3 linked regions of the Homo sapiens genome follow. The protein of the gene in region 3 interacts with the protein of the main gene of each other region in a pairwise test. Each region holds a gene or a part of one and is shown on either strand. Other genes may lie near its edges. The genes, in order: ABCA1, CHST15 and CANX.

The links.
Region 1: the proteins of CANX (region 3) and ABCA1 interact in binary tests that used the Homo sapiens proteins (3 or more experiments, as listed by UniProt).
Region 2: the proteins of CANX (region 3) and CHST15 interact in binary tests that used the Homo sapiens proteins (3 or more experiments, as listed by UniProt).

Annotation. Positions count from the first base shown.
Region 1 is NC_000009.12:104,813,055-104,816,704, forward strand, and holds part of ABCA1 (phospholipid-transporting ATPase ABCA1), read right to left. Parts: intron 3,292-3,650; coding exon 3,089-3,291; intron 1,422-3,088; coding exon 1,373-1,421; intron 1,178-1,372; coding exon 1,064-1,177; intron 1-1,063. UniProt on the Homo sapiens protein: Catalyzes the translocation of specific phospholipids from the cytoplasmic to the extracellular/lumenal leaflet of membrane coupled to the hydrolysis of ATP.
Region 2 is NC_000010.11:124,020,475-124,024,124, forward strand, and holds part of CHST15 (carbohydrate sulfotransferase 15), read right to left. Parts: intron 939-3,650; coding exon 782-938; coding exon of another isoform or gene 608-781; exon of another isoform or gene 1-607. UniProt on the Homo sapiens protein: Sulfotransferase that transfers sulfate from 3'-phosphoadenosine 5'-phosphosulfate (PAPS) to the C-6 hydroxyl group of the GalNAc 4-sulfate residue of chondroitin sulfate A and forms chondroitin sulfate E containing GlcA-GalNAc(4,6-SO(4)) repeating units.
Region 3 is NC_000005.10:179,722,824-179,726,473, reverse strand, and holds part of CANX (calnexin isoform d precursor), read right to left. Parts: coding exon 3,455-3,650; intron 2,815-3,454; coding exon 2,695-2,814; intron 1,818-2,694; coding exon 1,691-1,817; intron 1-1,690. UniProt on the Homo sapiens protein: Calcium-binding protein that interacts with newly synthesized monoglucosylated glycoproteins in the endoplasmic reticulum. It may act in assisting protein assembly and/or in the retention within the ER of unassembled protein subunits.

The sequences.
Region 1 (3,650 bases), on a different chromosome or scaffold from region 3:
CTATGAAACAGGCCATGTACGTAGCTTGACATATTTGAGAATACACAATGGCAATTAGCATCTCAGCTTCTCACCCTATTATATTTTGGTAAAACGTGGACACATTTCAAATGATCTAAGTACTGATACTGTATGAAGTCAGGCAGTTATATATAATGTAAGAGCCATACACTCTTTGAGCAGGGGTGAGAGAACTGGAAAGTTTTCTGTTCCTAAAAATTTTCTAGAAATCCTTGTCCTAAACTAATGATACCTAACTGATGTGCTTTTACATCTTAACAATATTTGTTTGATGTCTTAGCTCTCCTCTCCATCTCAGTTAAACACACAAAGACACACTCATCCAAAATATCTAATTCTTTTTTTTTCTTTTTTGAGATGGAGTTTTCACTCTTGTTGCCCAGTCTGGAGTGCAATGGCGCAACCGTGGCTGACTGCAACCTCTGCCTCCTGGGTTCAAGCGATTCTCCTGCCTCAGCCTCCCAAGTAGCTGGGATGACAGGCATGTGCCACCACACTCGGCTAATTTTTTGTATTTAGTAGAGACGGGGTTTCACCTTGTTGGTCAGACTGGTCTCAAACTCCTGACCTCAGGTGATCTACCCACCTCAGCCTCTCAAAGCGCTGGGATTACTGGCATGAGCCACCATGCCCAGCCTCAAATATCTAAGTCTTAGGGTACAATTAACTCTAACAGCAAATTCCCCTTTCTGACTCTTTCAAAATCACTCATCTACTCGAATGAATATTTGTTCAACAATTAAACACCTAATGTATACAAGAAACTAGGACCCCGCAGAAAAGATAATAAATACATGGGTTCAGAGGATTGAGGCACCATCTTTATGTCTTTAAAGGAAGTGATATGGATAGGCTCTTTCAGGTTTGATCACATGCACGATGCTGCAAAGAACAAGTGGCTTTTACCATTTCCTCACTTCTCTTTGGACTCTGTAGGGATCTATCACCTTGGCTAAAGGCCATCCAAAGAAAACAGGTGAGAGCATGAGAGAGAATTTCACATTCAAACAGTAGGACACTGTTTGATCTTGCCCTAACAGACCTGGGTCTATGTCAGAATCATTTGGATCAGCAGCATCATCTTCAGTGAACGGGCGAAGACAGCTCTGCTTGTCCCCGAAGGCCCGCCTGTTTCGTCTTGCTGGCAAGGTACCATCTGAAGGCACAAGGAAAGAATCCCATACTTTATTTTATTTACAACAAAACAAACCTTCCCCATCTGCAACAAACCTACACTCTACAAATGAGAATGCAATAGAACAATTCAAAGGGAAAGGAACAATACTCGTGCACTGAGAAAGCCAGCAGAAGGCACTATCTTAAGTGTGCCATTCTCCCTCAAGGCAGTTACCTGAGGTCTCAGCATCCACCCCACTCTCTTCGGCCACCTTGAGGAATATCTGGAAAATGAGAGAGATGAGAACATTATAAGCACCAACATTACGAGAGTAGTCACCACTGCCACGATTATTATATTACTGAGTGGCATGTTAGCCCCGTAAGACAGAGAAAGTAGAAGCCACATTTCTTAATAACACTTTCTCAGAGTTACCTGGGAGAGAAGCCGTTTTTGCCAGAGAACATTTCCTCAGTGGTGAGAGCTATCAAGCTAGACAATCATTTTCAAATTAAAGTTATGGCTGAGCGCTGTGGCTCAGGCCTATAATCCCAGCACTTTGGGAGGCCGAGGCGGGCAGATCACCTGAGGTCTGGAGCTCGAGACCAGCCTGACCAACATGGATAAAACCCATCTCTACTAAAAATACAAAATTAGCTGGGCGTGGTAGCACATGCTTGTAATCTCAGCTACTTGGGAGGCTGAGGCAGGAGAATCGCTTGAACCTGGGAGGTGGAGGTTGCAGTGAGCCAAAATCGCACCACTGCACTCCAGCTTGGGCAATAAGAGCAAAACTCCAGTCTCATCAAAAATAAAAAAAAATTTAAAAAAAGCTATGACAGACACTGCGCAGAAGAAATTTATTCTGAACCTACAGGGAATGAGTCAAGTGGCTTCTTTCAGGACTGTGGCTCTAAATCTTTGAGTAGGCTAGTACTATGATAAGTTATCCAAGACAGAATGAGCAGGAGGAAATAGAGCACTAGAAATATGATGGCAGCAATTCAAACATCAGAAGAGAATCTGAATGAGCGCAATCATTTCCAAACTCTAGTCTATAGACCACTGTGTCCAAAGTATGCAATAGAAATACAGACTTCAAGGCCTCACCTCCAGAAATTCTGATTCACAGGCCCTGAAGCCAAACCTTAGTATGTTTATTTTTAATAATATCCCCAGGTGATTCTGCTGCACTGTCAAGCTTGGAGACCACTTGGCCAGACAGCTTTTATATCCCCTTCAGCCTTCAAGGTCTGTGATGTTGTATCTCTAAGGGGAGGCATTACATGGATAAAGAGAGGATGGACTTTGAAGCCCCAAACCCCTGATTCTGAATCTCATGTCAGCATTCCTGAGTGTTCATTTTTTCATCTTTTTTTGAGAATTAAATGAGGTCACAGTGATTAAAAAAAAATCAAAAAACAAAAAACAAATCTCAGCACCTGGCACAAGTAGACTATCCATCCATAAACGTTTGTCATTTCCTATGTATGAGAATCCAGTTGATACCTGGCTGTGACACAGTCACACCAGAGAATTGCTCCTGATTCTGATTCAGTAGGTCTGAGCTGGGCCCAAGTTGCTGAATTTCTAACAAGTTCCCAAGTGATCCTGATGCCGCTGTTCCTCACACTGTACTTAAGTAAAGAGGCTCATTAAAGGGTAAATAAGTGCATAGGAGTTTAAGGTTGGGATGTAAATGTGTTAGGTACCACTGGTTTCAACACACAAATCTCAGGCATGTACTGTGGTACAGAGGAAAACACTTCTTTCCTGCTATCTCCCACTACCATCTTAAATGGCTCACTGGGGCCAACATTAATCAGATGTCGATGACCTAAAAACTCAATGACTAACTCCATGATAATCCTGCTCCCAATGCAGGCTACTGGTCTGGCCTTAGGACATTTGGCCTTGCTATATATTCCGACAGTCAGCCACTTAACTTACTTCTTCCAGGGTCGTCTCTGAGATGCCATAACTAGAAATGCCCAGGTCTGAGAGCCGGTCATCAATCTCATGAAAGAGTTCCACAAAGGCTCCCTCCTTAGCAGCTTCATATGGCAGCACATAGGTCAGCTCATGCCCTATGTCTTCCACCAGCCGGGCTTCAGACACATGCTTCCTGATGAGGTTGGAGATAGCAGAGACATCTGCAGGGACCAGAATGCAAAGATGGCTCAATCAACTCAGAGGGGCTTCGGAGTGAGGGCTGGCCATCCCCCACCCTCTCATCAGAGGCCTGCCGCTCATACACCACACCTGTTCCAGGTGTTTAGGTCATTCCACATGTTCATCTCTGGTCTGAGGGTTGGGGGCAAAGGAAAGGACTATGTCTTATTCACCTTTGTATCACCAAAGCCAGGCACATTATAGGTACTCAGTGTAGAATGGGTGGACAGCTGGATGGGTGGATGGGTGAATGGGAGGATGGGAGGATGGAAGGATGGGTGGGTGGGTGGGTGGATGGGTGAATGGATAACTGAGGCTCAAAGTCTGGTGTCTATTGCCT
Region 2 (3,650 bases), on a different chromosome or scaffold from region 3:
GGCCTCTGTAGTAAGAAAGAGGGGGCAGAGCCTCTTGGCCTGAAGTCCCACCACCTGGGGGCTTCCAAGACTCCACAGCAGGCCTGTTGGTGCCTTGCTATGCGAGACGCTGAGCAGAGCAAGGCTTGTAAAGCCACTCTGGAACACGCAGCGGCAATGCTCGCTGCATAAGCCCTGCTGTTGAAGTACACAGCCAGCCCAGGGAGCCCAGCATGGAAAACTATCCCGGGGCTAAAAGGTGCTGAATTCACCAATAACAGCTTTTTGCATTCAAAAAGGCTAGAAATTTACAGACATAGTTCTGAAGGAAGAACAAGAGATACGATTGAGGAATCAACAGAAAATGTTTTTCAATTGAGACTCTGTCAAAGAAGCATTGAAAATCATTGATGGGTAGTTTTTTAAACCAACAAAACAATCCACCGCTCAAGAGAATGCTCTTAAGACAATTTGAGAGTTGGGTGTCCTCATGTCTGCCGATTCTAATTGCTGGGTGTCTTGCTAAATGGTAATCTTCCTAAAGGCACCCTCATCCTCCTGCTGAGGGAGGAGGGGGAGGTGGCAGGTGACCAGCAGGGAGGAAGGCAGGAGCCAGACCAAGAGCCCATCAGTTTTCAGCTTTTACATCCATGAATAATGGGGAACAGCATTTGCACATTAAAACGCTTCTCTCTGTTCCTATGCTGAAACGCAAACCCACAATGCCGCTTGCATAATAACAACAAACCAGCTCCTTCTGCCAGGGGCCAGCTCGGGGGGTACGGGGGGGGGGGGTACACACAGGCATGGCGTTGTTGAGGGTGTTGTTGTAGACGCAGGCGCGCAGTGAATAATCAAGCATGCAATTTTCAAACAGCTGCAGTGCTTCTGTCACTTTCTCATGGAAGTCGTCCGCGGATTTATTCGAACTTGCAAAGTAGAGATAGTCTGAGTACAACCTGTGAATAAAATAAATGCATATTTTTACCACCCATGAACATGCAATCACACCATTTGGGCGACAATGAAAATCAGTGTACAATTACATTATCTAGTTTTCCTGATTGAAGCACAACCACCCTTCTTCTTTCCCTTGCAGATGAGCCACCTCCCTCATCCCTCCGAGCTCCCGCCCTTCTCGTGGCCACCTAAGCTCTTCCAGACCCAGACATGTCTATACTGGCCCCACACAAACCACCAGCCGCTTTTATGGTGTTGCTTGTTCTATCATCTCAGGCAGCCTCTGTTTTCACAGTAACAGGGAGCTTCAAACAATACCAGATTACAAAAATGGTACACTAGCAAAGAGAAGCCATGAAAATTTTATGCACCTTCTCATTCCTCTCTCCTCTACTGAAGGGAACAAAAATAAGAGCATCTGTTGCTCTCACAATATTACAATTCCGCATGAAATTCCCACTACTTTGCATACGCATTCCTGACATTGAAAAAAAAATGATGAGATGTATCTTTCTAGGTTGGTAGGGACCTTGTTTTTAACACGATGTAAAAGCACCCCCACATATGCACAGGAATACCTGCAGACTTACACGTTTACCCGTGGACACAGATCTGTTCCTAGACACCACACACACGTATGGCAGAATGCTGCCGCACGGGAACTGATCGTCTTCCTTGACCCACTTCAGGCTCCTCTGTATCCTCCTCCCAACTAGACCTTAACTTTTTTACCTCCAGGTCCATCTCTGCACCACCCTATTTTAGCAAGAATCCTGCTGTTAAATAAAATGTATGAGAGGCTACTGTTCTGGACTGAGCTTCTGCAATAGGCCCCCACAGGCCAGAACAGAGTCATCTGTGCTAGGTGCCACGTAATTGAACTGAACTCGGAATGGGCCAGTTTCCAAAAAACCAGGGGATACACAGCAACCAGTCAGACGTCCCCTTTGCTTTAACCCTAGAAGGAAAGTCACTCTGAAATGAACAATCCACTCTCCGTTGCCTGTTTTTGCTTCTTCAGCCCGTTTCTGCCTATAAAGCCAGAACCTGGCTGGGCCCACAGGAGCACCTTCGTATTACAGGAATGGGATGCTGCCCTGTTCATGGACCGTGCTAATAAACACCAGTGAGATCTCTAAACTAAATTTGTCAAAATATTGTTTGTTGACACTGCTATGCTGGTTTAGCCAGAATCCCCCACCCTTGGTTAACTGACCACCCTTCTTATCTGATCAGGTTCCTAGTCCACCACCCCCAGGAGATGCCTGGCCACCTGGCCTGTCTCCAGCAAGAATCCCATCGGGTTGGTTTAGCCAGAATCCCCACCCCTTCCCCCTTGATGTTTCCCCTTAGTAATTTTCTAGCCACCAACCCCCTCGCCCTGCTCCTTGGCATTTCTTTTTTTTTTTTTTTTTTTTTTTGAGACAGAGTTTCACTCTGTCCCCCAGGCTGGAGTACAGTGGCGTGATCTCAGCTCACTGCAACGTCCGCCTCCTGGGTTCAAGCGATTCTCCTGCTTCAGCCTCCCGAGTAGTTGGGACTACAGGCGCCTGCCCACCAAACCTGGCTAATTTTTTTGTATTTTTCGTAGAGATGGGGTTTCACCATGTTGGCCAGGCTGGTCCTGAACTCCTGCCTCAACTGATCCACCTGCCTCGGCTTTAAAATCCCTACTTTTCCTAGTTGTATTCGGAGTCTCTCTCCTCTACTGAAAAACTGTCATGGCAGTCCCTATACCTACCACAATGGTCCTGAAGAAGGCCTGCATTGCCATTTTAATAAATGTCAGGGCCAGGCACAGTGGCTCATGCCTGTAATCCCAGCACTTTAGGAGGCCGAGGTGGGAGGATCACTTGAACCTAGGAGTTCAAGTCCAGCCCAGGCAACATAGTGAAACCTTGTCTCTACTAAAAATACAAAAAATTAGCCAGGCGTGGTGGTGCGTGCCTGTAGTCCAGCTATTCTGGAGACTGAGGTGGGAGAATGACCTGAGCCCAGGAAGTTGAGGCTGCAGTGAGCCGTGATCATGCCATTGCACTCCAGCCTGGGCAATGGGAGTGAGAACCTCTCTCAAAAAAAAAAAAAAGAGGTGTTTTTATCTTCAACAGAACATTCAGGGTGTGAGTTTCCTACTCTTTTTTCTCCTCTATCTCTCCTTGCAGCCCTTTTTGTCTGTTTTCAACCTTCCTGCCATATGTCCCACTCTCTTCTTGCACACACACCTGCATCTCTGGGCCAAGGGTGAAACTGGGCTTATGAAAAACATGGCCTACGTGGCTCCACAGGGTCACACTTCTCTCTCCTCAAAGCTCTATACTTTCTATTCCTTCAACTTCTCCAACCTGGCTTCCCCTCTTTCCAGGGAAGGCAATTCTGTGACTCTCATTCTGCACCCATGCATCCAGGTATCTGACATCCATATTTCCGTCTTCGTTTTTTTTTTTTTTGAAGCGGAGTTTCGCTTTTGTTGCCCAGGTTGGAGTGGAATGGCGCAATCTCGGCTCACTGCAACCTCCGCCTCCCGGGTTCAAGCAATTCTCCTGCTTCAGCCTCCTGAGTAGCTGGAATTATAGGCGCCTGCCATCACACCCAGCTGATTTTTTGTATTTTTAGTAGGGACAGGGTTTCACTGTGTTGGCCAGGCTGGTCTCGAACTCCAGACCTCAGGTGATCCACCCACCTCAGCCTCCCAAAGTGCTGGGATTACGGGC
Region 3 (3,650 bases):
GTTCTGAATAGCTGGGACTACAGGCGCCTGCCACCATGCCCGGCTAACTTTTTTTATTTTTAGTAGAGACGGGGTTTCACCGTGTTAGCCAGGATGGTCTCGATCTCCTGACCTCATGATCTCCTCGGTGGCCTCCCAAAGTGCTGGGATTACAGGCGTGAGCCATCGCGCCCGGCCACTATTTTTTTTGAGATCGACTTTGCTTGTCACCCAGGTTGGAGTGCAATGGCATGATCTCGGCTCACTGCAACCTCTGCCTCCAGGTTCAAGTGGATCTCCTACCTCAGCCTCCGGAGTAGCCGGGATTACAGGTGCCCACCACCACGCCTGGCTAATTTTTGTATTTTTAGTGAAACGGGGTTTCACCATGTTGGCGAGGCTGATCTCGAACTCCTGACCTCAGGTGATCCACCCACCTTGGCCTCCCAAAGTGCTGGGATTATAGGCGTGAGCCACCTTGCTCGGCCAACAATTTTTTTTTTTTTTTGAGACTCAGTCTCGCTCTGTCGCCAGGCTGGAGTGCAGTGGCGCAATCTCGGCTCACTGCAACCTCTGCCTTCCGGGTTCAAGTGATTCTCCTGCTTCAGCCTCCCGAATAGGTGGGACTACAGGCGCCCGCCACCATGCCTGGCTAACTTTTTTATTTTAAGTAGAGACGGGGCTTCACTGTGTTGGCCAGGATGGTCTTGATCTCTTGACCTCGTGATCCACCCACCTCGGCCTCCCAAAGTGCTGGGATTACAGGCGTGAGCCACCATGCCTGGCCAACAATTTTTTTTTTTTTTTTTTTTTTGAGACAGAGTCTTGCTCTGTCACCCAGGCTGGAGTGCAGTGGCCCAATCTCGGCTCACTGTAAGCTCTGCCTTCCCAGGTTCACGCCATTCTCCTGCCTCAGCCTCCTGAGTAGCTGGGACTACAGGCACCTGCCACCATGCCCGGCTAATTTTTGTATTTTTAGTAGAGATGGGGTTTCACCATGTTAGCCAGGATGGTCTCGACCTCCTGACCTCGTGATCTGCCTGCTTCGGCCCCCCAAAGTGCTGGAATTACAGGCGTGAGCCACCGCACCTGGCCAACAATTTTTTTTTAAGAGACAGGATCTCGCTGGGTCTGGTGGCTCACGCCTGTAATCCCAACACTTTGGGAGGCCCAGGTGGGAGAATCGCTTGAATCTGGGAGGCAAAGGCTGCAGTGAACCGAGATCACACCACTGCACTCCAGCCTGGGCAACAGGGCCAGACCATATCAAATAAATAAATCAATAAACAAACAAACAAACAAACAGCTGAGCATGGTAGCGCATGCCTGTGGTCCCAGCTACTTGGAGGGGTGCTGAGGTAGGAGGATCACTTGAACCTATAAGGTCAAGGCTGCAGTGAACTGTGACTGTGCCACTGTACTCCAACCTGAGTGACAGAGTGGGACCTTGTCTTAAAAAATAAAAAAGAGAGAGAGAGAGAGACAGGGTCTCACTCTGTTGCTCAGCTGGAGTGCAGTGGCACTATCCTGGCTGACTACAGCCTTAAACTCCTGGGCTCAAGTGATTTTCCTGCTTCAACCTCCCAAAGTGCTAGGATTACAGGCTTGAGCCACCACGCCTGGCTAAAAACAATCCTTAACTTGACTGTAAAGGTTTAACAACATCGTAGGGTCTTGGCTTAAAGCAGATTTTCTGGACTCTGTTTCTTACCAAGTTTCTCTTCTCCTTCCTCCTCCTCATCTCCCTTGTCCTTTTCCTCTTCCTTCTCTTCTTCCTCTTCCTTCACATCCGGTTGAGGTGCATCAGTTTTCTTATACTCCATACCACTGGTCTGTTTCTGAAATGTTCCCCAAAGTACAATTTTGTTTACATGTTCATGTATTATGTTATATAATTCCTGAATGCCTACAGGCAAAGTTCTGTTCCAGGCTGTATACAGGGATAGATATACAGAAACGAATAGGATGTAATTCCTACCCTGAAGAGCGTGTATGTACGTGTGTGTATGCACATGTGCTTGTGTGTTTCAAGGTAGAACAATAAAAACAAAAGGGCCAGGCAGGAAAATAAAGGTCAAAAAAGTCAAGGTGACTGAGGCACCGATACACAGAATAGTGGCAGAGGCTGAGGCTGGAAAAGGAACTTGGGATCCAGTTACAAAGTGCTATGAATGCCAGATGAAGCATAATCCTCATTTAGCAGAAGTAGAGTCCAAAATAAGACTTTCTTTTTTTATGATAGCATGCAAAAAAAAAAAGGCTAAACAAGAAAAACTAACAATAAGGCTGTGGTACCCCAACATACTGTTTTGAGAGTGGGGAAGGTGAAGGCAGAATGGATAATGAGGAATCAAAGACTGAATTACAAAGAATAGAAATAGCTATGCCAGCAGGCAAAGCTGATTATTGCCCAAGTGGCTAGTTTGGTATCTAAGTTTATTGTTTTTTTTTAGAAAGTTGCTGCCGAACACTATGGAGAGTAACAGATTAGGATAAATAATAATAGCAACCAAGGGGCTATAAATCCTGCTCCCATCTGGGCACAATAAACGGCCACTGAGGAACAGTAAGTAAGGTTTCTGAAGTCAACACCAAACATGGCTTGGTCATTACTGAGCCACTACAAAGAAAACCTCAGGCAACATATCTTAGTTATTTTTAATAATCACTAGAGTGATGTCTCTAAAATTGATTCTAAAAAAAAAAACTTCCTACCTTTCCAGAACAGCAGAAGAGGATAACCAGGAACACAGGAAGGGCTACAGTTAGAATATAGACTACCCACAGCCACGGGCGCTCTTCAGCTGCCTCGATCATCTGCCCCACAACGCCTGGCTGAAAAACAAGACAGGGCTGATTGAAAGTTCCAGCTTTTGACACCAAACATAGGCCGTGCTGTTTTTCTGCAGTTCAGTTATGGCATGGCACTACGCAGGACCTTCTTTTTCAGAGAAAATGCTCATAAAATGTAAAAAAGAAATTAGAGAAAGCCTCCATCCTCTTGCTCTCCTTATAATCAAGATGATTTCACTCTCATAGGTGCAAAAGCTGGCTTCTACATCACCTGCAAAAGGCTCCCTTAACCTCAGGATCCAGTGAATTTCTTATCTCAGTATCCCTGGCTCTCCAATTCTTAAATCGGCCACATGACCAGTTGTTTGAAAATTCTGTATGTAGTGTAAACCGAGATTCAACATATAAGAGTGTATTAAAATATAGCCTAAATGACAAATTTCGAAATATATACCCAGACAAATAATAAAAAAAAAACCCTGAACACAAACAGACTCTAAAGCCACTACATTAGACTAATGAAATCATGCCCCAAAACCCAATATTGTGTCTTTTGCAGGCATATGGTTATACTTTTTATGCCAATATTGCCAAATGAAGAAAAAAAACCTTAACACAGACTTTCACAAAATAACAGCTCCTTACAATAACAGACACAAATGCACAAGCAGCAAACACGAACCTCAGCAGCCCCATCAGCAGCTTTCTTCAGGCCCCATCCATCATTGGCCCAATCATCAACTATTCTTCGATCAGCACAAATGATAAAGTTGTCAAAAAAAATGTCAGAGGTCATGGACCACAGCTCCAAACCAATAGCACTAAAAGGAGTCATTCTGAAAGGTTCCAGATCTTCAAAGAAATCTGGATTTGGTATT